2 separate regions of the Homo sapiens genome follow, and region 1 is linked to region 2. Evidence: fine-mapped QTL for protein levels in blood plasma. Region 2 holds a variant in brackets. A gene starts in the other region. All regions are shown on their reverse strands.

Evidence for each region. A credible set is the group of variants that fine-mapping cannot tell apart. PIP is the chance, under the fine-mapping model, that this variant and not a neighbour inherited with it causes the effect. The UK Biobank Pharma Proteomics Project read protein levels with antibody pairs (Olink). The fine-mapping took linkage between variants from a reference panel, not from the people measured, so its PIPs are less certain.
Region 1: it holds the start of NCAN, and the variant in region 2 is the best candidate, but not a certain one, in a credible set for the plasma level of the NCAN protein (UK Biobank, PIP 0.63).

Annotation. Positions count from the first base shown.
Region 1 is chr19:19,208,343-19,223,920 of GRCh38, reverse strand. It overlaps NCAN (neurocan), which reads right to left and starts at 11,963. Exons shown (of 15, transcript NM_004386.3): 1 at 11,857-11,963; 2 at 6,895-6,974; 3 at 4,605-5,006. The coding sequence starts at 6,967. RefSeq lists enhancers at 9,313-9,813, 9,814-10,314, 11,867-12,161.
Region 2 is chr16:17,285,559-17,293,558 of GRCh38, reverse strand. All of the region lies in intron 2 of XYLT1 (xylosyltransferase 1), which reads left to right. Among named protein-coding and RNA genes, the nearest start is that of XYLT1, 180 kb to the left of the region's middle. The variant A/T (reference allele first, on the strand shown) is at 4,118.

The sequences.
Region 1 (15,578 bases), not on the chromosome of region 2:
ATAATAGACCTAGCGCCAGGCACAGTGTGGGTCGAGGGTGGGGAGCAAGATCCATATGCCCCCATTTTACAGATGAGGAAACTGATAACAATGGCCATAAAGGGTTACAAGTTAGCAAATATTTACAATGTGAAAAGCGTTTACGGCCGTTCAGGCATGTTGGCTCACTTCTGTAATCCTAGCACTTTGGGAGGCCAAGGTGGGCAGATCACTTTAGGTCAGGAGTTCGAGACCAGCCTGGCTAACATGGTGAAACCCTGTCTCTACTAAAAATACAAAAAATAGCTGGGCATGGTGGCATGCGTCTGTAATCCCAGCTACTAGGGCGGCTGAGGCAGGAGAATCGCTTGAACCCAGGAGGCAGAGGTTGCGGTGAGCCGGGATTGAGCCACTGCACTCCAGCCTGGGAGACAGAACAAGACTCCATCTCAAAAAAACTAAAACATTAAAAAAAAGAAAAGCATTTATAAGCATTATCTTATTGAACTCTTACAACAAATCTGATTGTTCTAGAGGAGGAAACTTAGGGTCAGAAAGGTTGAGGGACAGGTCCAGGCCCACGCAGCAAATAAGAAACAGAACCAGAATTCAAATTCAGAGAGATCTGACTCCAAAGATAGCACTCTTCATGCCCAGGGTTAGGCCCTGGAGGTGGCAGGAGGTGTGGAGAAGGCTGACAGAGAGTTTCTGCCTTTTAGGAATTAAGTGCATGCGCTAATAGGGAAGCACAGGCAGCAATGGGAGACCAAATGTGGTTCTTTTTTATTTATTTATTTATTTTTTATTTTATTTATTTTATTTTATTTATTTTTTGAGACAGAATCTCACTCTGTCGCCAGGCTGCAGTGCAGTGGCGCGATCTCAGCTCACTGCAAGCTCCGCCTCCCGGGTTCACACCATTCTCCTGCCTCAGCCTCCCAAGTAGCTGGGACTACAGGCGCCTGCCATCACGCCCAGCTAATTTTTTTCTATTTTTAGTAGAGATGGGGTTTCACCATGTTAGCCAGGATGGTCTTGATCTCCTGACCTCGTGATCCGCCCACCTCAGCCTCCCAAAGTGCTGGGATTACAGGCATGAGCCACCGCGCCCGGCCCAAATGTGGTTCTTGCCTGGCCTGGAAATGTGGTCCTGGAAGGCTTCCTGGAGGAGGTGACATGTAAGCCAGGATGTGAAGCCCTGGTAACAGGCTCACTGTGATTCAAATTCTGATTTAGGGATGAAAGAAATGGCTGAACAAGACAATGAAATGAAACACTTTGCTCTGGCTTATCCAACTGAGAGCTCTGTGTCCTCAGCATTGGACCAGTACAGTGTAGGTGCTCAATAAATGTTTGGCTGAATGTCCGGGCATAGCAGCTCATGCCTGTAATCCCAGCACTTTGGAAGACCGAGGCAGGCAGATCACTTGAGGCTAGGAGTTGGAAACCAGCCTGGCCAATGTGGTGAAACCCTGTCTCTACTAAAAATACAAAAATTAGCCAGGTGTGGTTGTGTGCACCTGTAATCCCAGCTACTCCAGAGGCTGAAGCAGGAGAATCGCTTGAACCCACGAGGCAGAGGTGCAGTGAGCCAAGATCACACCACTGAACTCCAGCCTGGGTGACAGAGTGAGACTCTGTCTCAAACAACAACAAAAAGAGTTTGGCTGAATGAATGAAATTGAAGTTACCTAGATGTGGAATTCACTTGCCTCACCACCAATCAGTTTGTTGTTGTTGTTGTTGTTAGCTTTTATCAATTTTCAGAAATGAGGCCTCTGAAAGGGGATGACTGGTTGACTCCATAAACTATGTGGTAAGACACTGTGTCCCCAGTTCCCAGTTTGGGGGCATGCAGGTTAAGCCCCAAGACAGGAATCAGGGACTTGCCCAAGGTCAATTTAAGTTAAGGGAAACAGGTTTCCCAGCAGGAGTCCACGGGATGTTTGCTGTACAATAATCCATTCACTGAGTCATTTATTGAGCATCTACTGTGTGCCAAACCCTGTTCTTTATTTTTAGTTTTTGACTATTTATTTATTTATTTATTTGAGTCAGGGTCTCCCTCTGTCACCCAGGCTGAAGTGCAGTGGTGCGATCTCAGCTCACTGCAGCTTCCAACCTTCCAGACTTAAGCGATCCTCCCACCTCAGCCTCCTGACAAGCTGAGACTACAGGCGCACACTAGCATGCCCTGCTAATATTTTTTTAAAAATTTTGTAGAGACGAGGTCTCACCATCTTGCTCAGACTGGTCTTGAACTCCTGGGCTCAAGCAATCCTCCTGCCTTAGTCTTTCAAAATGCTGAGATTAGAGGTGTGAGCCGCCACATCTGGCTTATTTAGTTGTATTATTATTATTATTATTATTTTTAAGATGGAGTTTCCCTCTTGTTGCCCAGGCTGGAGTGCAATAGCACAATCTCGGCTCACCTCAACCTCCACCTCCTGGGTTCAAGCGATTCTCCTGCCTCAGCCTCCCGAGTAGCTGGGGTTACAGGAATGTGCCACCATGCCTGGCTAATTTTTGTATTTTTAGTAGAGAAGGGGTTTCACCATCTTGGCCAGGCTGGTCTCGAACTCCTGACCTCATGATCTGCTGGTCTCGAACTCCTGACCTCATGATCCACCCGTCTCGACCTCCCAAAATGCTGGGATTACAGGCGTGAGCCACTGCGCCCAGCCATATTATTATTATTTTTGAGACAGGGTCTTGCTGTGTTGCCCAGGCTGGAGTGCAGTGGCATGATCAAGGCTCGCTGCAGCCTCGATCTCTTGGGACTCAAGCAATCCTCCCACCTCAGCCTCCTGAGTAGCTAAGACTACAGGAACACACCATCATACCTGGCTAATGTTTTGGAATTTGGAATTTTGTATAGACAAGGTCTCACTATGTTGCCCAGGCTGGTCTCAAACTCCTGAGCTTAAGTGATTCTCCTGCCTTGGTCTCCCAAAGTGCTGGGATTACAGACATGAGCCACTGGGCCCCCATCCCCGTTTTTTGTTTTTTGTTTGTTTGTTTGTTTTTGTTTTTCTAATAGAGACAGGGTCTTGCTATGTTTCCCAGGCTGGTCTTGAATTCCTGGCTGAAGTGACCCTTCCTCTTCAGCCTCCCAAAGTGCTGAAACTACAGGTGTGCACTACCACACGCAGCTCAACAAGAAGAATTTAATAAAGGAATTGGTTGCCAGGTGCGGTGGCTCATGCCTGGTAATCCTAGCACTTTGGGAGGCCGAGGTGGGCAGATCACGAGGTCAGGAGATCAAGACCATCCTGGCTAACACGGTGAAACCCCGTCTCTACTAAAAATACAAAAAATTAGCCAGGCGCTGTGGCGGGCGCCTGTAGTCCCAGCTACTCAGGAGGCTGAGGCAGGAGAATGGTGTGAACCCGGGAGGCAGAGCTGGCGATGAGTTGAGATCATGCCACTGCACTCCAGCCTGGGAGACAGAGCGAGACTCCCATCTCAAAAAAAAAAAAAAAAAAAAAAAAGAATTGCCTAAACAGGTATTTGAGAATTGTTCTTGCTTAATATTTAATATACATCTTAAATTAACTTACTTTTAAAAAATTGCCTCACTTAGAAAAAAACTTAAGTTTATTTTACAAGGAATTTTTTATTTCTATTTTAAATAGAAAGCCAGTATCCTTTGTCTTACATAAAATCAGATAACCATAAAATTGACTCCAAGTAAAATCCTGCCTAGACGGAGGATGCAGTGAGCTTAGATAGCACCACTGCACTCCAGCCTGGGCAACAAGAGTGAGACTCCATCTCAAAACAAACAAACAAAAATCCTGCCTAGATATTGTGGCCCCCAGAAGTCTGAGCTGGAGACTCCTCTCTCATAGCTAAAAAAGAGAGGTGTTAAAGACAAGATAGTACCCATACTGATACAGACGTTTTTTTTCTTTTGAGACAGAGTCTCGCGGTGTGGCCCAGGCTGGAGTGCAGTGGCTCAATCTCAGCTCACTGCAACCTCCACCTTCTGGGTTCAAGCAGTTCTCCTGCCTCAGCCTCCCAAGTAGCTGGGATCACAGGCATGCATCACCATGCCTGGCTAATTTTTTTTTTTTTTTTTTAAAGACGGGGTTTCACCATGTTGGCCACACTGGTCTCAAACTCCTGACCTCAACTGATCCACACGCCTCGGCCTCCCAAAGTGCTCAGATTATAGGCACCATAAAGACTTTAGGACTTTATCAGAAGAATTCAAAGGGAATCCCGGTTCAGAGAGTGATTTCTTTCCTTTTTTTTTTTTTTTTTTTTGTGACAGGGTCTCCCTCTGTCATCCAGGCTGGAGTGGAGTAGCCTCAACCTCCCAGTCTCAAGTGATCCTCCCACCTATGCCTCCCAAGTAGCTGGACTACAGGCATGTGCCACCATGCCTGGCTAATTTTTGTATTTTCTGTGGAGACGAGGTTTCACCATGTTACCCAGGCTGGTCTCGAACTCCTGTGCTCAAGCAATCCACCCGCCTTGGCCTGCCAAAGTGCTGGGATTACAGGCATGAGACACCAGGCCAGGTCTCAGGGAGTGATTTCTAAGGTGACATTCAGTGGGTGGGCTCCAGGCTCAGCCCTCCCTCTCCCCGGCCCCCGGCCCCTCCTTTGCCCCCAACTGACCTGTCACCTCCAAGGGCACCAGGTCCTGCTCATCCTCGATGCCCCTCACCACCTGGCAGCGGTACAGCCCAGAGTCACTGGCCCTCAGTGGCCCCAGAAGTAGCGTGGCGTTGGCTCGGCGCCGGGGGTAGGAAGGCAGTGACACTCGTCCCTGCCAGCTTTTGGCCACCCTCACGACATTGTCCTTGGCCACCAGGATGGGCAAGTCCTGTCGCTGGCCCGACGCAGTCCGCACCTTGGTCCACTTTATCCGAGGGGCATCTCGGGCTGCGCTTGGCCGTGGCTGCAGGGTAAAGAGACAGGGCAGGGCCACCAGCTCCGCCAGCGCAGCCTGCACTGACCCAGACCCCAGCTTCTGCATGTGGAGCCCCCTTTCGCTGGCATCGGTGATATCCTGTGTGCCTGGGTTGGAGAAGGTGGAGAGAGGGCCTGATTCAGAGGCAAGAACCAAGCAGGGACTGCTATTTCCCTCTTTTAAAAAATTTTTTAAAAGGGCTGAGCCAGAATTTGAACCTAGGGCCACTTGACCTCAGAATCCAAGCAGTGGCTGGACGCGATAGCTCATGCCTGTAACCCCAGCACTTTGAGAGACCAAGGCGGGCAAATCACCTGAGGTCAGGAATTTGAAACCAGCCTGACCAACATGGAGAAACCCTGTCTTTACTAAAAATACAAAATTAGCTGGGTGTGGTGGCACATGCCTGTAATCCCAGCTACTCAGGAGGCTGAGGCAGGAGAATCGCTTGAACCCGGGAGGCAGAGGTTGCGGTGAGCCAAGGTCGCACCATTGCACTCCAGCCTGGGCAACAAGAGCGAAACTCCATCTCAAAAAAAAAAACAAAAAACTATTTTTAGAGATTGAGTCTCACTCTATCGCCCAGGGTAGAATGCAGTGACATGATCATGATTCACTGCAGCCTCAAGCTCCTAGACTCAAGCAATCCTCCCACCTCAGCCTCCCGAAAGTGCTGGGATTATAGGTATGAGCCACTGTGCCCAGCCCCTTATTATTATTATTCTTTTATTTATTTATACTTTTGAGATGGAGTCTCGCTCCATCTCCCAGGCTGGAGTGCAGTGGCATGATCTCAGCTCACTGCAACCTCTGCCTCCTAAGTTCAAGCAATTCTCCTGCCTCAGCCTCCCCAGTAGCTGGGATTACAGGTGTGTGCCACCACGCCTGGCTAATTTTTGCATTTTTAGTAGAGATGGGTTTCACCATGTTGGCCAGGCTGGTCTCCAATTCCTGACCTCAACTGATCCACCTACCTTGGCCTCCCACAGTTCTGGGATTATAGGGGTGAGCCACTACACCCAGCCTTATTATTATTTTTTTGAGTCTGACTCTGTCACCCAGGCTGGAGTGGAGTGGCATGATCTCGGCTCACTGCAACCTTCGCCTCCCAGGTTCAAGCGATTCTCATGCCTCAGCCTCCCGAGAAGATGGGATTACAGGCATGTGCCACCACACCTGGCTAATTTTTGTATTTTCTGTAGAGACGGAGTTTCACCATGTTAGGCAGGCTAGCCTGGAACCCCTGACCTCAAGTGATCTGCCTGCCTCAGCCTCCCAAAGTGCTAGAATTATAGGCATAAACCACTGTGCCTAGCCCCTCACTTTATTTTTATAAGGACAGGGATTTCACTCCAGTGCCACTGATTCACTGTATGGCCCTGGGAGAGGCATTTTCCTTCCCTGAGCCCCAGTTTTTCCGAAAGGTAAAGCAAAAGACAGCTAATGAAAAGGAAATGGTGTTTGCAGAGTACCATCTTTGTAACAGGCACTTTATAGCAATCAGCTCATTTGATTTTCATAACCATCTGCAGAGTAGCAATGTCTCATTCTCTTTGGGGGGAGTTGAGGAAACTGAAGTTCAGAGAGATAATTATACTTGCCTAAGGTCACAGACCAAATCTGTGAGGGATTTCTAAAACCTGGGCTCTTGACCACCAGTAGAGGGACACAGACCTTTATTTCCATCGCTCCACCCTTGGCAGACATCACTAATCAATCTCTGCACTATTCTCATTTCTTTCTTTCTTTCTCTCCAGTTCATCTGAGCAAAACGATGAGAGGCGGGAATCTCCAGCTTCTGCTGACAATGACTAAAAATAACCTCTTAGGTATCCTGTTCGCTTTTGACTGTTCAAAGACCTTTTAAAATCTATTCTCATTTTATTCTCTAGCCCATGCCAGGAGACCAGCAGGAGAAGGCTCTGGAATTCAAAAGCTGCCCCATCTTGTCCATCCCCTAGACCCCAATCTCTCCCTCCCCACAAACCAACTCACCCTGTTCCCCAGCCACAAAGAGCAGCATCTGCAGCATCAAAAGGCCCAAGGCCCAGACAAACGGGGCCCCCATCCTGGATCTGGAACAAAATGGAGAGGGAGGGAGGGGTGAGCCACAGCCCAACCCTCCCAGATATTCAGCATTGCAGGACCAAACTCCCCCACTCTACAGATCAGGAAACCAGGGCTCAGAGAGACCAGTGTGTTATTCTAGGTCACAGAAGGAGCCAGCAAAGGGCTGAGCCAGAATTCGAACCCAGGGCCACTTGACCTCAGAATAGCAGTGGCTGGACGCGGTGGCTCACGCCTATAGTTCCAGCACTTTGGGAGGCTGAGGTGGGAGGACTGCTTGAGGCCAGAAGCTTGAGACCAGCCTGGGCAACATAGTGAGATCTTACCTCTATTTAAAAAATTAGCAGCCAGGCGTGGTGGCTCACGCCTGTAATCCTAGCACTTTGGGAGGCCGAGGAGGGTGGATCACGAGGTCAGGGGTTCGAGACCAGCCTTACCAACATGGTGAAACCCCGTCTCTACTAAAAATACAAAAATTAGCTGGGCGTGGTGGCAGGCGCCTGTAATCCCAGCTACTCAGGAGGCTGAGGCAGGAGAATTACTTGAACCCGGGAGGTGGAGGTTGCAGTGAGCCGAGATCACGCCACTGCACTCCAGCCTGGGCGACAGGGTGAGACTCTGTCTCAAAAAAAAAAAAAATTATCTGGGCTTGGTGGCGCACACCTGTGGTCCCAGCTATGCAGGAGGCTGAGGTGGGAGGATTGCTTGAGCCCAGGAGTTCAAGGCTGCAGTGAGCTATGATTCCACCACCACACTCCAGCCTGGGTGACAGCGCGAGACTGAAAACAAAACAAAACACAACACAACAACAAAAAACAATCCAAGCAATGAAGTCTGTGGTCAGAAGCCTGGGTGCTGGTAGTGAATCAAATCTGGAATTGGCTCACTGTTCCTTTTGTGTGATCTTGGGCAAGTTGCTTACCTTCTCTGTGCCTTACTTTCTTTGTGGGTCAGATGGGGATAACATCAGGTAGTTGAAAGGAATGGATGAGTCAATACATATAAAATGCTTAGAACTGTCTCATGCAGTAAGGGGTACATTTTAGCTGCTGCTATTATTATTACCGACCTTAACACAGCCAAGACTGAAATACCATTTTTCAAGTCAGCCTCCTCCATCAGACTGGCGGCTCCTAGAGGGCAGCAGTCTGTCCCAGTCCTCCCAGCATCCTCAGTCCAGGCAGCAGGCTGGCCTCTAAGCCATCCTTTAATCTGGGTTTGCTGGCTGACACGATTCGCAGCTTCAATTCCAGGATTTGGTTGTCACCAAGATTCTATTCTTGGTTTCTGGGATTTTGGAGGAGCCGCCAACTCCCAGCTGGAGGAAGGGGCTCACCCCTGCCCACCCATCCTCCTCCTGACTTCACACAGCTCAACAAAGATACTTCTTAGGCCCACAGAGAAACTTCAGTTGTGGGTCCATTTCCCTATAGGGGCTAGGACCCATAGGGATAAAGTGGACAATTATTAAGCGCCTACTGTGAGCAAAGCCCATGCCAGTCGTTGGGACACAGCAGTGCATTTCCTGACTTCACATTGTTCCAGAGACTAGGAATCCTGGGGAGGTGGTCCCTCCCCAAAACCTCCCACTCCTGCGAACCCCGGTCACCAGGGCTCAGGAGGTGGGCGCAGATGGAAAATTAGAACATCATCTGCAAACCCAATCCTTGCTCCCCGCCCCCATAAGAAATTATCCCTGAGGAAGGGGTGTGAACGGAGTCCAGAAGGGGAGGCTGTATGTGACAGCTGTCCCTTTCCCCAGTTCTCCTTCCCAGCTCCCAGAGTCCCCTGCTGGGAGGCCGGCCTGGGACCTGTCCGTGGTGCTGAACTCTGAGGCGGCAACGCAGCGGCAAAGCCCACCTAGTCCACCCCTGCCTCCTGCCTGCTAACACGATGCCTCAGGGACCAGAGAGGGCTAGAGGTTTGCCTCAGGCTGCACAGCAGGGTAGAGGTCAAAGCCAGACCCTGGACCAGTGCTCCCAACTACCAACTTGTAAACCTCAGCAACCTCTGCCTTCACCAGGCTGTTCTCATTTCTTCCCCTTGGAACCCTGAGCAAGTGTGGGGTCCCCTCATGGCTGTTCCAGGCCTGGCCAGGTATTAGAGAGAGACAGGACTCCGGGTTGCACCTGCCCCCAGCAGGGCCTTACGAGAGGACAAGGCCAGAGAATTCTCTTTCTCTCTCTCTCTCACACACACACACACACACACACACACACACACACACCCCGTTAACAGGTCAGACTACATCCAGATAGCTCTGCTTCTAATCCGGGACAAGCTGCTTCAATCTCTCTGTGCCTCAGTTTCCCCACCTGTAAAATGGAGATTATCCAGCAAGTACCACCTGCAGCTACTGTGAGGATGAAATGACCTAAGACTTGCAAAGTCCTAGAAATGTTAAATTTAAAAACAGCTCTTTAGACACAAAGCCTCATGTATACGCTAAAAATATACTGAGGTTGCCCAACATGGTGACAGACACAGTTTCAGGTGCACACCCCCCACACACACCCTCCCACTCCCTTCCACTCGCACCCTCACACACCCACACCCTTCTCTTAAAATACCTCCTCCCCAGGGCGGCCAGAGATGAGCATTTACACAGCTGTCTGGGGCCCGTGCCCTCATGAATAATGTACAAGCCTCATGCATATGCAAGCAGGGGCCTGCGGGGTGCTGGAGGAGGGGCAGCTCGGATCCATGTGAATGTGTGTGTGTGAGAGAGTGTGTGTGAGTGTGTGTGTGTAAGTGTGTGTGTGTCCCCTCCTTCACTTCACCCCCACCTCAAGTCTCCGTTAGCACTGAGTGAAGGTGAGTTTGCCAATGGGCATTTGTGAGTGTTTGTGACTGGGTGTGTGTCCGGGGTGTTGTGTCCTGGCAAGGGTGTGAAGGCGGTTGTGCCATGTGGTGGGTGCATGTTGTGTGTGTGAGCCTGCAGCAGCTCCGTGCACCGGGTGGAGCACATGGGACCTAGTGTGATCTGTGGATGTGTGTGAGTCTGAGTGACCCTCAGCAGGGGGCTGTGCGCACATGTGTGTGTTTCTGACCTGAGAGTCAGGGTGTATTAGTGTGCATGGGTGTGAATGTGGAACTCCGTGGAGGAGAAAGGGAGATGGGCTCAGTCATCATCCCGGGCTTCCCCTTGGGGATTTCAACCCCTGCTCAAGCTTTCCCTGTTAGCGCCCCAACTCTGAACACAGACCACGTCCCACACCCCCGTGCCAAGGGTGCACACTGCCAACCGCATGGAAAGAACCCTTGGCCCCTCCAGATACACAAGCGGGACACACACAGCCACGCACCCCAGACACAGACCCTGGGGAAACACACACTCACACAGATTCACAGTGACATTAACAAAGAGAGACAATATGGGCACTTACAAGACAGGCGGCGTGTCTTCTGCACAAAGACACACACCCACAGTCTCGGGCCCCCCCCCCCCCACATAAACCCCTTGATGAACGGAACAGCATCAGACATAGCTCCTCACTCACACGGCGATGCCAGCCCCTGGCACAAACCGAGATGGATAATTGTGGCCTTGGTGACCGATGGACACCCATCATTTTGCCACATGGTGATGTGGCCCTCGGCACAAGTTTTCTGACAAAGACACAACCACAGTCACATCAGACTCACAGGGGACCCTAGAACCCCTGGGCATACTCCCCCTCCCTGCCTGTCTGGGGTGGACACACACACAAAACCCCCATATCCTTGAGGGGGAACTTGATTTCAGAATGTCCATCAGCTATTGCGACGGCTGGGTTCTGGGGTCCCACAGTGCACCCACCCCTTCCTGCCTGCCCTGCCCCCACGTCCCCCGCTGGGGCCCAGAGCCAACCCTCTCCCTGGCCTGGCTGTTTCTCATTGATGCTGCCTGAGAGGAACAAAGCCCCACGCGTAGGGATGGGGGTCTCTCCTGCCCAGACAGGGCCCTTACTTCCCAGCCCCTTACTTCCCAGCCCCTGTGCCCCCAAACCAAGCCAGCGCTTCCACATGTGTCCATATGGACAGGTGGAACTAAAGGGGGTGGGGGTAGGGGTCTGTGTCATGCTGTAAGGACGTGGGAGGCTGTGAAGGTGCTGGGGGACAGCCCCCCCTCTGAGCTGGTATCCCTCACAGGTCCTGGGGATCCATAGCTGGGGGGTCTAGGGGACCCCCACCCAACATTCACCTGGGACACCCAGTGTGTTCCCTGGGATAAGGGACAACACCTCAACCCAAGGTCTAAGGGAATAACGGGGAACCACGTTGGGATGGGGACCCCCAGGACCTCCTCCCTGAGTCAGAACGTGGTGACCGGACCTGACCCAAAAGGACAGGGAGATGGCAGGGAGCCCCTTCCCCATGGCCGTTCGCTCTCAGCGCAGATACCCTTCCATTGGGCACAGGGTGATCTGGGGGCCCCCTCCCCACTGCAGTCCGGCCCGGAATCCTCCATTCAACCGCAAATTGGGAATCCCTACTTAAAATCCTGGGGTGTCTCGGCTGAGATACGGGGGTGCCCTGTTCCAGAGTCCCCCATTCGGCATCTGGGTGTCCTCTTCTTCCCTCCAAACTCGGGGGGCCCCTCCCCTAGCCCTGTTTCCCATTGCTCCCTCCTCAACCCTGAGACCCACCCCCAGCCCGGCCCCCTCCCCACCGGGGGGTAGTCTCCGGATTCCGCGGACAACCTTCCTCCCCAAATGTCTGTTCACCTAGCATTCCCAAGCCCCCTCCCAGTTCGCGCTCCCTCCTCAACCTAGGGCTCCCCTCCCCCGCTTCAGCCCCCTCCCCATTCTGGGGACTTCTCCCTGGTCTCAGGTCCTCTCCCTAATCCTGAGCTCTGTCTCTAATCCCGAAGTCTTCTCCCGCAACACGGCCCCCTCACGGATCCCCCACCTGGCTCCTAGCTCGGACGCATCCCGGGGCGGCCGCCGGGCACAAAGGACGCTGCGCTCCGACTCAGCCAGCTCCGCGCCGGGTCCAGCCCCTGCGCCCTGCGCTCCGCTGGCCCCAGCGCCGCCTCAGTGCTTATAAAGGGGCCGCGAGGGCTCTCTGCGCATGCGCCCCCGCCAGCCCGAGGCCTCTGGCTGCGCGAGGGAGGGGGCTCCCCTGCCTAAAATCCCCACCCCGCCCATTTTTTGGACACTCACCGCACCCAGGAGAAGATGGCATCGATTCTCCTCCCATTCTCTTTGCCCCAGGAACCGCGTTAAACGTCCCCATTATGCCCCAGGATGAGGCCGTCCCATTTTACAGGTGGGGAAACTGAGCCCCAAGGAGGCAAAGTCGCTTCCCAAGGTCACGCACAGAGGCAGAGCTGGGATTCGAACCTCGCCCTGCCTGATTCTCCAGGACTCACGTTCAAAGCAGTTTTGGCTACAATTACTGGTTTACCCCATTTACAGAGAGGAAACTGAGGCACGGACGAGACGGGGAGACTCCTTGTTCACACAGCTGGTAAGAGGCACGCAGGGTGGGAGTCCAGGTGTGTGACACCCCCGAGCTGTTTCCAGCAACTACAGCCAGATTGTATCATTCATTCATTCACCTTTGTCTGATCAGCATTTATGTAGCACACTCTATGGACTGGGTACTGCTGTTGACACATGAATAATTTTGCTTTATGCAGAGGCATAGGCATGTCCCTGCCATGAGACATGAGACCCCAATCTTTTTTTTTTTTTTTCAGACGGAGTCTTGCTCCGTCATCCAGGCTGGAGTACAGTGGCACGATGTTGGCTCACTGCAACCTCCACCTCCCAGGTTCAAGCGATTCTCCTGCCTCAGCCTCCTGAATAGCTGGGATTACAGGCACCTGCCACCACACCCAGTTAATTTTTGTATTTTTAGTAGAGATGTGGTTTCACCATGTCAGCTAGGCTGGTCTCGATCTCCTGGCCTCAAATGATCCGCCCGCCTCAGCATCCCAAAATGCTGGGATTACAGGCATGAGCCACCGCGCATGGCCTTGAATTACACATTTTAAGATGGTGAGTTTTATGTTATCTGTATTTGACCACCATTAAAAATATGGTAATGAGGGCTGGGTTCGGTGGCTCACACCTGTAATCCCAGCACTTTGGGAGGCCAAGGCGGGTGGATCACCTGAGGTCAGGAGTTTAAGACCAGCCTGGCCAACATGGTGAAACCCTTTCCCTATTAAAAATACAAAAATTAGCCAGGCGTGTTGGCAGACACCTGTAATCCCAGCTGCTCAGGAGGCTGAGGCAGGAGAATCGCTTGAACCCAGGAGGCAGAGGTTGCAGTGAGCTGAGACCATGCCATTGCACTCCAGCCTGAGTGACAGAGTGAGACTCCGTCTCAAAAAAAAAAAAAAAAAAAAAAAAGCCATGAGGAGGGAAATGTGCCCAGAGAGGGCAGGCTTTGCCCCTGCCTTCCTTCCTATGGTCGTGGTGTTTCTGTGCTGAGAATGGGCTCGCAGCGCTCCACCCTGGGTCCTATATCTGTGAGTGTGTGTTTAGCATCTCTGAGGGTGCGTGTCCATCTGGTAGGAGGATAGGCAAATGAGGGACAAGATAGCTTCCACAAGGTTATCAAAGAAAGGAGGCCTTGGCCAGGTGCCGTGGCTCACGCCCATAATCCCAGCGCTTTGGGAGGCCAAGAGGACAGATCATTTGAGGTCAGGAGTTCGAGACCAGCCTAGCCAACATGGTGAAACCCCATCTCTAATAAATCAAAATTAGGGTGTGGTGGCGGACGCCTGTAATCCCAGCTACTCGGGAGGCTGAGGCAGGAGAATCGCTTGAACCCTGGAGGCGCAAGTTGCAGTGAGCCGAAATTGGGCCACTGCATTCCAGCCTGGGCAACAGAGTGAGACTCCATCAAAAAAAGAAAAAAGAAGAAGAAAGGAGGCCAAGCACCGTGGCTCATGCCTGTAATCCCAACACTTTGGGAGGCTGAAGCAGGCAGATCACCTAAGGTCAGGAGTTTGAGACCAGCCCAGCCCAGCCAACATGGTGAAACCCTGTCTGTACTAAAAATACAAAAATTAGCCAGGCATGGTGGTGTTCACCTATAATCCCAGATACTCAGGAGGCTGAGGCAGGAGAATCACTTGAACCTGGGAGGCGGAGCGTGCAGTGAACCGAGACTGTGCCACTGCACTCCAGCCTGGGTGTCAGAGCAAGATTCCATCTCAAAAAAAAAAAAAAAGATTATCAAAGAAAGGGTAGGAATGAATGAGGGATAAGGGGGGACCCCAGGTGAGCAAGGGGTAGCCCTGGGGTCCAAGATGATACAGCGGGAAGCTGCACTGACTGTTTGACTCTGTGTCACAGAGGAGAGATGGAGGTCAAGGATCCCAGCTGATGTGAGTGTCTGCAGGTGACAGCTGTGTCAGCAGCACCCAAACAGCATGCAATGACTAGTCGGTGAGGCTGGAGCGTGCTGGGGGGTTGGCTGTGGCTCACACTGGGAAAGACGCTGAGAACAGCTGCGTGACGTGCGTGAGAACCGAGTAGCTCAGCCTCCACAAGTCTGGGGTTCAAACCCCCTCCCTGCCATTCGTAACAATGTGACTCTGAGTGAGCCATCTCATCTTTCTGTGTCTCAGTTTCCCCATCTGAAATGGGGATAGTCCAGGTGCCGGTGGCTCATGCCTGTAATCCCAGCACTTTGGGAGTCAGAGGCAGGAGGATCACTTGAGCCCAGGAGTTCAAGACCAGCCTGAGCAACACAGTGAGACCCCCATCTCTACAAAAAATAACTTAAAAGTTAGCAGGACATGGTGGCACACATCTGTGGTCCCGGCTACTCGGGAGGCTGAGGGGGAAGGATCGCTGGAGCCCAGGAGATTAAAGCTGCAGTGAGTCAAGATTGCATCACTGTACTCTGGTCTGGGTGACACAGTGAGACCCTATTTCAAAAATGAATAAAATAAAATGGGGGGAGGGTGGGCGCGGTGGCTCAAGGCTGTAATCTCAGCACTTTGGGAGGCCAAGGCAGATGGATCATGAGGTCAGAATTTGAGACCAGCCTGGCCAACATGGTGAAATCCCGTCTCTACTAAAATTCAAAATTAGCTGGGTGGGGTGGTGCACACCTGTAATCCCAGCTACTCAGGAGGCTGAGGTAGGACAATCGCTTGAACCCAGGAGGTGGAGGTTGCAGTGAGCCAAGATGGCACCACTGCATTCCAGCCTGGGTGACTGAGTGAGATTCCATCTTGGGAAAAAATTAAATAAATAAATAAATAAAATGGGGGATAATGAATGTCCCTACGTTACCGGTTGCTTGGAGAATGAAATGGGAAGTAAACACACAGGCAGGGACTGCTGTTTATTTTACAGGTGCTGGGGAAACTGAGGCTTAAGGAGCTAGGATCACCTGCCCGAGGATGTACAGAGTGAGTAGAGACCAGGTGGAAGCCAAGGTCTGTGGGCGCAGAGCTGAGCCCCAACCCCACCTATCCTCATCCTTCTGCTTCCCCCGCTTCTCCACTCCTCCCCACCCCTTGCCCCCACCCCCCGGCTCCTCGCTGGTGCCAGGGCTGAGCTTAGAGGGGCTGGCCTGGGGCCCAGGGGCGGGCTGTTGCCGGGGGCTTGAATGAGGCAACCTTGCCTGGGAATCTACTGGGCTCAAAGAGCTATTTATAGGCC
Region 2 (8,000 bases):
CCAGGATTGTGCCGCTGCACTACAGAAGGAGACTCAGTCTCAAAAAAAAAAAAAAAAAAAAAAAAAAGGAGGGAGAAAATCTTTATGTTAAAAACTACCCAAGCCTCTGGTTTGGGAGTAAATACATAGCTTTACACCTCCAAAGTGTCACGTTATTTAATTGGTACCACTGTCCCTGGGGAACTTCAGTGGCTATGCTAAGTGGAAGTTCCATTAGAGAGATGCTCCCAGGTCAGCGGAATGAAAATTAAATACTAGTTGTTGGGTGTTAAACAGAGGTTTTGGGTGTGTTTGGTGGAGGTAAACTCGGGGATGCCATGATACCCTGTCCTGCAGTCACCTCTCCTCCCCTCCCAACCTTCCAGGACCCCTAGGCAGCAGTGGGGGTAGCCGACAGAGAATCAACTTCCCAATCTTCTAGCACAGAGTTCCAGTAAAAGTCTTCTTGGAAGTGCCCGCTTTACGGGTTAGCTAAAGTAGGACCTCCACTCTCTTTGCTTGTAGCTGCAGGTGGGAATTTTGGCTCTGAAATGCTCCCATGCCTGCAGGGAGCCCAACTCAGCTTACAATTCCATTGCATGGAGCTGCCCAGCATGTGCCAGAGTCCTGGTTCCTGAGGCTCCCACACAGTGACCCTGCCCACTGTGGCCCCCTTAGTGCTCAGGGCTGAGATGAAGTGGATGAACGTCTCATCCCTGACCGTGGGACTGGGCAAAGTGTGGAGAGATGTGAGGAAGTGGCCTCTGTATTCCCATGTGCCCCACTTTGTGCAGGAAAGTGTTTCTGAAAGACCATGTGTGGGCCAACAGGGATGATGTCAACACAAATGTGCTTTTCTCATTCACTTCAACTTTAATGCCAGGGATTTCTCTGCTTCATTTCCCATTGCTATTCTGGTGGCATCGTCTCCTACCAAAGTGGTTTTAAACTTCTCCTTCATCGCCAGTCTGTTCAGGTGACGCTCAGTAAATAAACACTTGACTATACCAGAGCTGTACAGGGATCCACATCAGCCAGCCTCTCTGAATTTCAGGGGCTATTGTGAAGAGCCCTGCACAGCAGGTCATTTTGGATACACAGATCAGCTCAGCAAATACAGAGATGGAACTGATATGTGAGAAACAGAACACAATCAAGAGATAATAACACGAAAAAAATAGAGATGGGAGAGTTTTTTTTGTGAAGTGAGGAATCTCGTCTGTGACACAGATTCAAATAACTAATTGTGTTTCCCTCTTTGCATTGCCTGCTAGGAAGCTCAAAGACAATTCATATCTCTCACATGTCTCATAAGCTCAGAGACAGAGGTCATATCTCTCATAAAACCTATGGTATTATTTTAAATGCTTCTGGTGGCAAATTGAATTTCCCATCATGTATATATAATATATATAATATTTAGAACCTTTCAAAAAACATATATATAGACACACACAGATATATATGTGTATATGTGTGTGTGTGTGTGTGTGTGTGTATGGTTTAGTGGGCACCACCATGCCCGGCTAGCTGGCTAATTATTTATGGGTTTTTTTGTAGAGACGATGTTTTGCCATGTTGCCCAGGCTGGTCTTGAACTCCTGGGGTCAAGAGATCCACAGGTCTCGGCCTCCCTAAGTGCTAGGATTACAGGTGTCAGCTACCGTGCCTGGCCATCCTATCATATTCTTTTCTCTTCATTCCTTTCCTTACCACACCTCGTCCCCACACTGTGTTTTATCTGTTTAATTTTTGGTCAGTGGAACAGTGTCTTTTGTTTAAGCCTTTTTGGAACATGGCATTTTTGTAACACCGAACAGCAGGAATAAATAGCTATTGCGATAAAATACAATTTCCAGGTCTTTTTGTATATGTCTTTCACTTAAGCCAGCAGCTTTCATTCCTGTACCCCTTCTCAGCACATTCTAAGTGTGAGGTCCTCAGCACCGTATTTGACCTTCAGAGCTTTAGGAAAACACAGCTCAGGGGCCTCAGAGGATTTCTGGCCTTAGAACAGACAGAGGCTGGGAAAATTGAGGTGGGTGTGTTCCACCCCACCCAAATCCAAACCCCTCTATTGGTTCTGGGCTGGACACACAGGATCTGTTGTTCATACTTGACTGTGCCACTACCAGGTGGGTAACAGTGGGCAGGACCCCTGGGCCTCAGTTTCGACATCTGTGTAATGGGAAATAACCTCAGCCTGCCAACCTCACAGGTCCCACATCTTACATATGCTGCTCATTGAATGAAAGTTCTTTTAAAATGAGACAATTAGGCCAGGCACAATGGCTCACACCCACACCCAGCAGTTTGAGAGGCCAAAGCAGGAAGATCGCTTGGGTCCAGGAGTTCAAGACCAGCCCTGTGGCAACATGGCAAAACCTCTTCTCTACAAAAAAGTCATAAATAGCCAGTTAGCTGGGTGTGGTGGTGCCCACTAAATCATATATTAACCCAGTCGCTGCCAAAAAAAAGTTAACCAGGTGTGGTGGTGTGCACCTGCAGTCCTTGCTACTCAGAAGGCTGAAGTGGGAGGATCCCTTGAGCCTGGGAGGCTGAGGATGCAGTGAGATATGATTGCGCCATTGCACTCCAGCCTGGGTGACAGAGACCGTGTCTCAAAAATAAATAAATGAATAAAATAAGACAATTGTCAGGTGGCCTGAGGAGGATCAGGATTTGGTGGCAGAGCCAGGGTGTTGATCCACCCCAGGACATTGTAACCACCTCTATCTGATCACCCAAATTAATAGGATCATTTACCAAGTCAGTTATTTTGTCATGTTTCAGATAGGCCCTGAAGTCAGATGAGCTGGCTGTGAATCTCAGCTCTGCCCTTCACTAGCTGTGGGCCTTGGACTTTGGCCTCAGTCTCTTCATCTTTATAATGGAGATAATTATGTTAGTAGTGATTATTCCACATCTAACACAGAGAAAGCCCATGTCATTTGCAGACATTTACAAGTGCATGCTCCATGGTAGGCTTTGACACCTCCTTGGGTCGATTCAACAGTTTGGGGAGCTAAGAGTACAGTAGGGGATTCTGAACACAGGATCTGCTGGTACTTCCATGCGGTTGAAGGCCCCTGCCTGTAAGGCGTCTCCTTCCACTTTGTTCTTGGCTCCAAGAGTCATGGCAGCCTCCAGAAATAGCTTCATCCATGCCAGGTCCCGGGACTGAGGTTGGTGGTTCTTGGAAATAGAATTTAACCGTAATGAAACATGAGATGGACCTTCCGCTGCCTTTGGTGCTTTAGACTTTTAAAATTAAAGTCAGTCCAGATAGACATCTCTAGTTTTACTTAGAAAGTTGTTAAAAATTATGGAAAGTTTGACACTAACCCTAACTTTCCTTGGTTGAAATTTTGAAGATGTGGCTTTCAGCCTCTAAACTGGATGAGCTGCTTTGCTAAACACTCAAGTCTACCTCTTTTTCTTTTTCTTTTAACTGAGGAGAAAGTAGCCAAGTTCAGAGTCTACTTTGATTGCCAACACGGTTCGATATTCTAAGTAGGACAGCTAAGAGGCAAAAAGAACAAGAAAGAGATGGAAAAAATGAAATCTATTATAACATTTTATTTTTTGGATGAGATAGATATCCTTAAAATGGAAAATCACTGGGATTTCATTTGCTTCAAGCCAAATTTTTGTTCTCTGCAGAAAGTCATCGTCATCTTCCTTTCTTGCTTCTTACAGAGAGGTTGCCCCAGAGACGGGGTGTGTGGGATCATGAAACAGCTCTTAGACTTTCCTCTGCATCACTCTGGGTTTGGGGTTTTGTTTTGTTTGCATGTTTGCGTTTGTTTTGTTTTCATTTTGGTTTTTTGCAAACTTTTTTTTGGAGCCAGTCAAATTTTCCTAGGTACAGAACTGAAGCTTTTGTTTTTAATATTCTGAATAGGAGTCATTTGCATTCTCAACTGTCACCCTGATGATGTTGGGTCTTGGATTTGGAATGCAATCAGAACTTTTTAAATTCCCATACCTAGGGAATCCAGAAAGATATCATCCTAACATTGGGAAAACACATCAGTCAAACTGATTTCTGGAAATGACATAGATTTATGAAATCAGGGAGTTGAGACACACTTACGCTGGGGAAACAAAGCCCCTTGAGTTGAGAGGTACTTGTCAC[A/T]TGTCTCAGGGTAGAACATAAACATGGCAGAAGACAATTGCGGGATTTTATGTGGAAATTCTAGAGGAGGGAAAGAGGGAGGCGACAGACAGAGAAAGGGGAAAAAAGCTGGCACAAATGGTGATGATACAGAGAAGCAACCTAGAGCAGGAGGTAGCAAACTGCCATTCACAGGCCAAATCTGGCCCTCCACCTGTTTTTAGAAATAAAGTTTTATTGGAACACAGCACACCATTCATTTACATACGCCCTATGACTGGTTTCACTCTACAATGGCAGGGTTGAGAGGTTGAGGCAGAGACTGTATGGCTTACAAGGCCTAAAATATTTATTAGCCAGTCCTTTACAGAAAATGATTTCTTGACCCTAGGTATAGATCATCGTGGATGAAAACTTACAATGGTGTAGAATCCCAGCTCCATCTCTTATCAGCTGGGTTGCCTTAGACAAGTGACTTTATGTCTCTGAGGCTCAGGTTTTTTAAAAAAATCTATTTATTGTATTCTTGGGATGTTTTAACAAATCACCTCAACACTCAGTGGGGTAAAACGGTAAGAAATTTTTATTTGTTACTGTTCAAGAGTCTTTGGGTGAGCTAGATGGTTCTTCTGGTCTCAGTGGTGGTTCTCCTGATCTCAGTTGGGCTGTCATGTCTGGAGATTGGCTGCCTCTAAGCTGGTCTAGGATTATCTCAACTGAGAGGAAAGTCATTTGGACTCGCCTCCACGTGGTCTCTCATCCTCCAGTAGAGAGCAAATGGCAGTGACAGGGTTCCAAGACAGAGAAGCCAAACTTAGGGTCACCTCTGCTACCTTCTTTTGGCCAAAGCAGGTCGCATGACCTGCCCATATTCAAGGTATGGACAAGTCATCTCAACCTCTTGGGAGAAGCAGCAGGGCACATTGCCAAGGGCAAGCATACAGCAGGCCATTGCTTGGGACCATCAGTACAGTCGGTCTACAATAAGCATAATAAGACAAGCCCCAAGAAGAACAAAAGAATCACACACAATCCCTGACAGGTAGGAGGTAAGTAAGAAATCCCAGCTGCCGTTACTCTTGCCATGAGTGAAACTGTATAGCTAAGTTATACACCAAGGGTTTTGCTGGCAATTGATTTATCTTGTAGCCTCTCTGCTTGGACACTGCACTATTTTTATATTGGAGAAGGGAGGAGTAACTGTTACCGGCCCCCACCTGAAGAATTATGTCTAGGTGGGGCCCAGTGGCTCACACCTGTAATCCCAGCAGTTTAGGAGGCCGAAGCGGGAGGATGGCTTGAGCTCAGGAGTTTGAGACCAGCCTGGGCAACATAGTAGGACCTCATCTTCTACTACAAATAAATAAATAAATTAGCTGGTGGTGTATGCCTGTAGTCTCATTTACTCGGGAGGCTGAGGTGGGAGATCACTTGAGCCTCACTTGAGGTGGCAGTGAGCTACGATTATGCTGCTGCACTCCAGCTGGCCAACAGAGCCAGACCCTGTCTCAAAAAAAAAAAAAGAAAAATTATGCCTAATAGAGTTCCTGGCACATCTTAAACTCTCACTTAGTATTAATCTTTTTTCCTAAGTGATTGGTAAATGTTAAGCTCCTGGTATTATTATTTCTGCTGCCAGTTGGAACTACCAGTCCTCCACCCCTTCTTTAGATGCCCAGCGTCTGTCTGTCTGTCTTTCTTTTGCCTCCCCTGCTCCTCACTTGACTTCTGTCTTAGGGACATTCAGCAGAGATTTGCTTTCTTCCTCTCCAGGAGCCCCACACAGTGGGCCCTTAATGCAAAGTGACATCTGAACGGAGTCCAGGGCCCTGGGAGGGCTCCCCAGAGGCAAGCTTTTGGCTGAAGCAGCCTCCAACAGAGTCCTCAGAATGGCTAAATTGCAGCCTGACAGTGCAGATCAGGAAAGGTCACTGTGTGAAGTGGCTGCCTGATTGGGGTGGGGAGATTTGGCCACATGCGGTACCGGCTGCAAGGATTCGACAAATTGTCTCATGGTGCAGAGTTACCTTCTGTGAGCCCAGAGTTTTTTCTGAGACTGTGATGAAGTGGCCACAGCCCCAGGAGGTGGGAGGAGTATGATCTAGAGGGATCCGTCTACGTTCTGAGCGTTTGCCTGCTTGAGGATACTGCACTGAGCGTTAATTGAGCAGCCTTGGATTGGGTTGATTCTTGAACTGGATTAAAAAAAAAGAGGGGGAGTGGTGTCTGAGTGGGTGATGGAGCATCTACATGATGAAAAACTAGATCCACGCCAGGCCTGGGTTTGAATCTCAGTTCTGCCTATTTTTAGCTGGCTGCAGTGTTTCTGCGTATGCTTGTTCAGGATATAACTACAGGAGGGAGTTAAGTAGGAGCCAAAATTCACCTACACTCTGGTCATCAAGGCATACTGTAGACTCAGGGCTGCAATTGCCCAGAGTAAGGGGAATCTTTTTTATTATTCTCATAAAGCTGCAGGATCAGTGAATGATCGTGGCCTTGGCTGGGTGGTGTTTGGTGGGTTTGACCTCCCCAAACACCTGAACAGAATTCAGGGTTTGAACTCTGAACGTAAGTTTCCTCATCTGTAAAATTGGAATGAAAACACTCCCCATCTCATAAGTTTGCTTAAAGCAGAAGACATGGGGAGATGCTTAGAGCAGTGTAAGGACACAATCAACGATGGCTATACTTTGTGGTGAAGGTGGCAGATTACCTGGGTTCAAGTCCCCGTCTTCCATTGCTTGCTGGAAAACCTTACAACAAGGATGGGGATGATGATGAGGATGATGATGATGAGGATGATGATGATACCTATCCATGGGGATTGTTGTGAGGATTCAAGAAGCTAATATACGTAATGTGCCTAAGTGTGGCTAGCTAATGAGTATTAGCTAAGCCAGTTTTACATACAATTTTAGTGCTGTGTTGATCAAGGATCCACATGGGTGACAGGTTGACCTGGGCTAAGAAAGTGACAGTGCAGATCCGTGGATACTTGAAGGTGAATGGTTTGGGATGACAAGGAGAGTGGTCTTTATATTGGTGAGTCAGTCCATGGTTTGACCAAAACCCTGAGAACATTCTTGGATGTATTAATTTCTCTAATTTCCATCTGCCATCCCCTTCCATGATTATTTATTCCATACCTCCCTCCCCAGCCTCCCACCCACTCCTCCCACATATTGCTCAGTCTCTGTTTACCCCTTCAAGTAAGTGTGGTGGAGAAGGGTCTTGATTTATGAGCTTACATGAGCCTGGTTCAAATTCCAGTCCTACCAATTACTAGTGCCGGGACCTTGAGCAAATGTCCTAGCCTTTTTGAGTCTAAGTATGTTTGGAGTAATAATAGATCCTCTATGACAGGTTTATTGTGAGGGTCAGAGAAGATCATGAAAGTTAGTGATTAGCAGAGAGGCACGTGGGCCCAGACCCCCATTGTGTTAGCTGCTGTTTATGTTGATATTGGCATAACACAGTCTCTCTCTGTCTCTCTGTCTCTCTCTCTTTCTCTCTCTCTCTCACTCACTCACACACACATGGACACACACACACACACACACACACACACACACACACACACACACAGAGATACACCAGGTTTGGGGCTAGACCCTTGGGGGTTATAAACTTGAATAAGTTCTGCTCCTCAGAAGGACACATTTTTAGGGGGCTATACCATGTTAACAAGCAATTCAGGTGGAAAGTTCTGTAGTGGAGTTGGTAAAAGTGTTCTGTAGGCATAGAGGAGGAGGAGAAAGTCTGGTGAAGGAGACAGAGGCAGGGGTCATTTGAATGCAAGCCAGGGTGAGGGGTGAAGGGCCTGGCATTCCTGGCTGAAACATCAGCAGAAAGCAGGGCCCCCGGGCATGATGGTGAAATTTGCAGCCAGGCCTAAATGCTG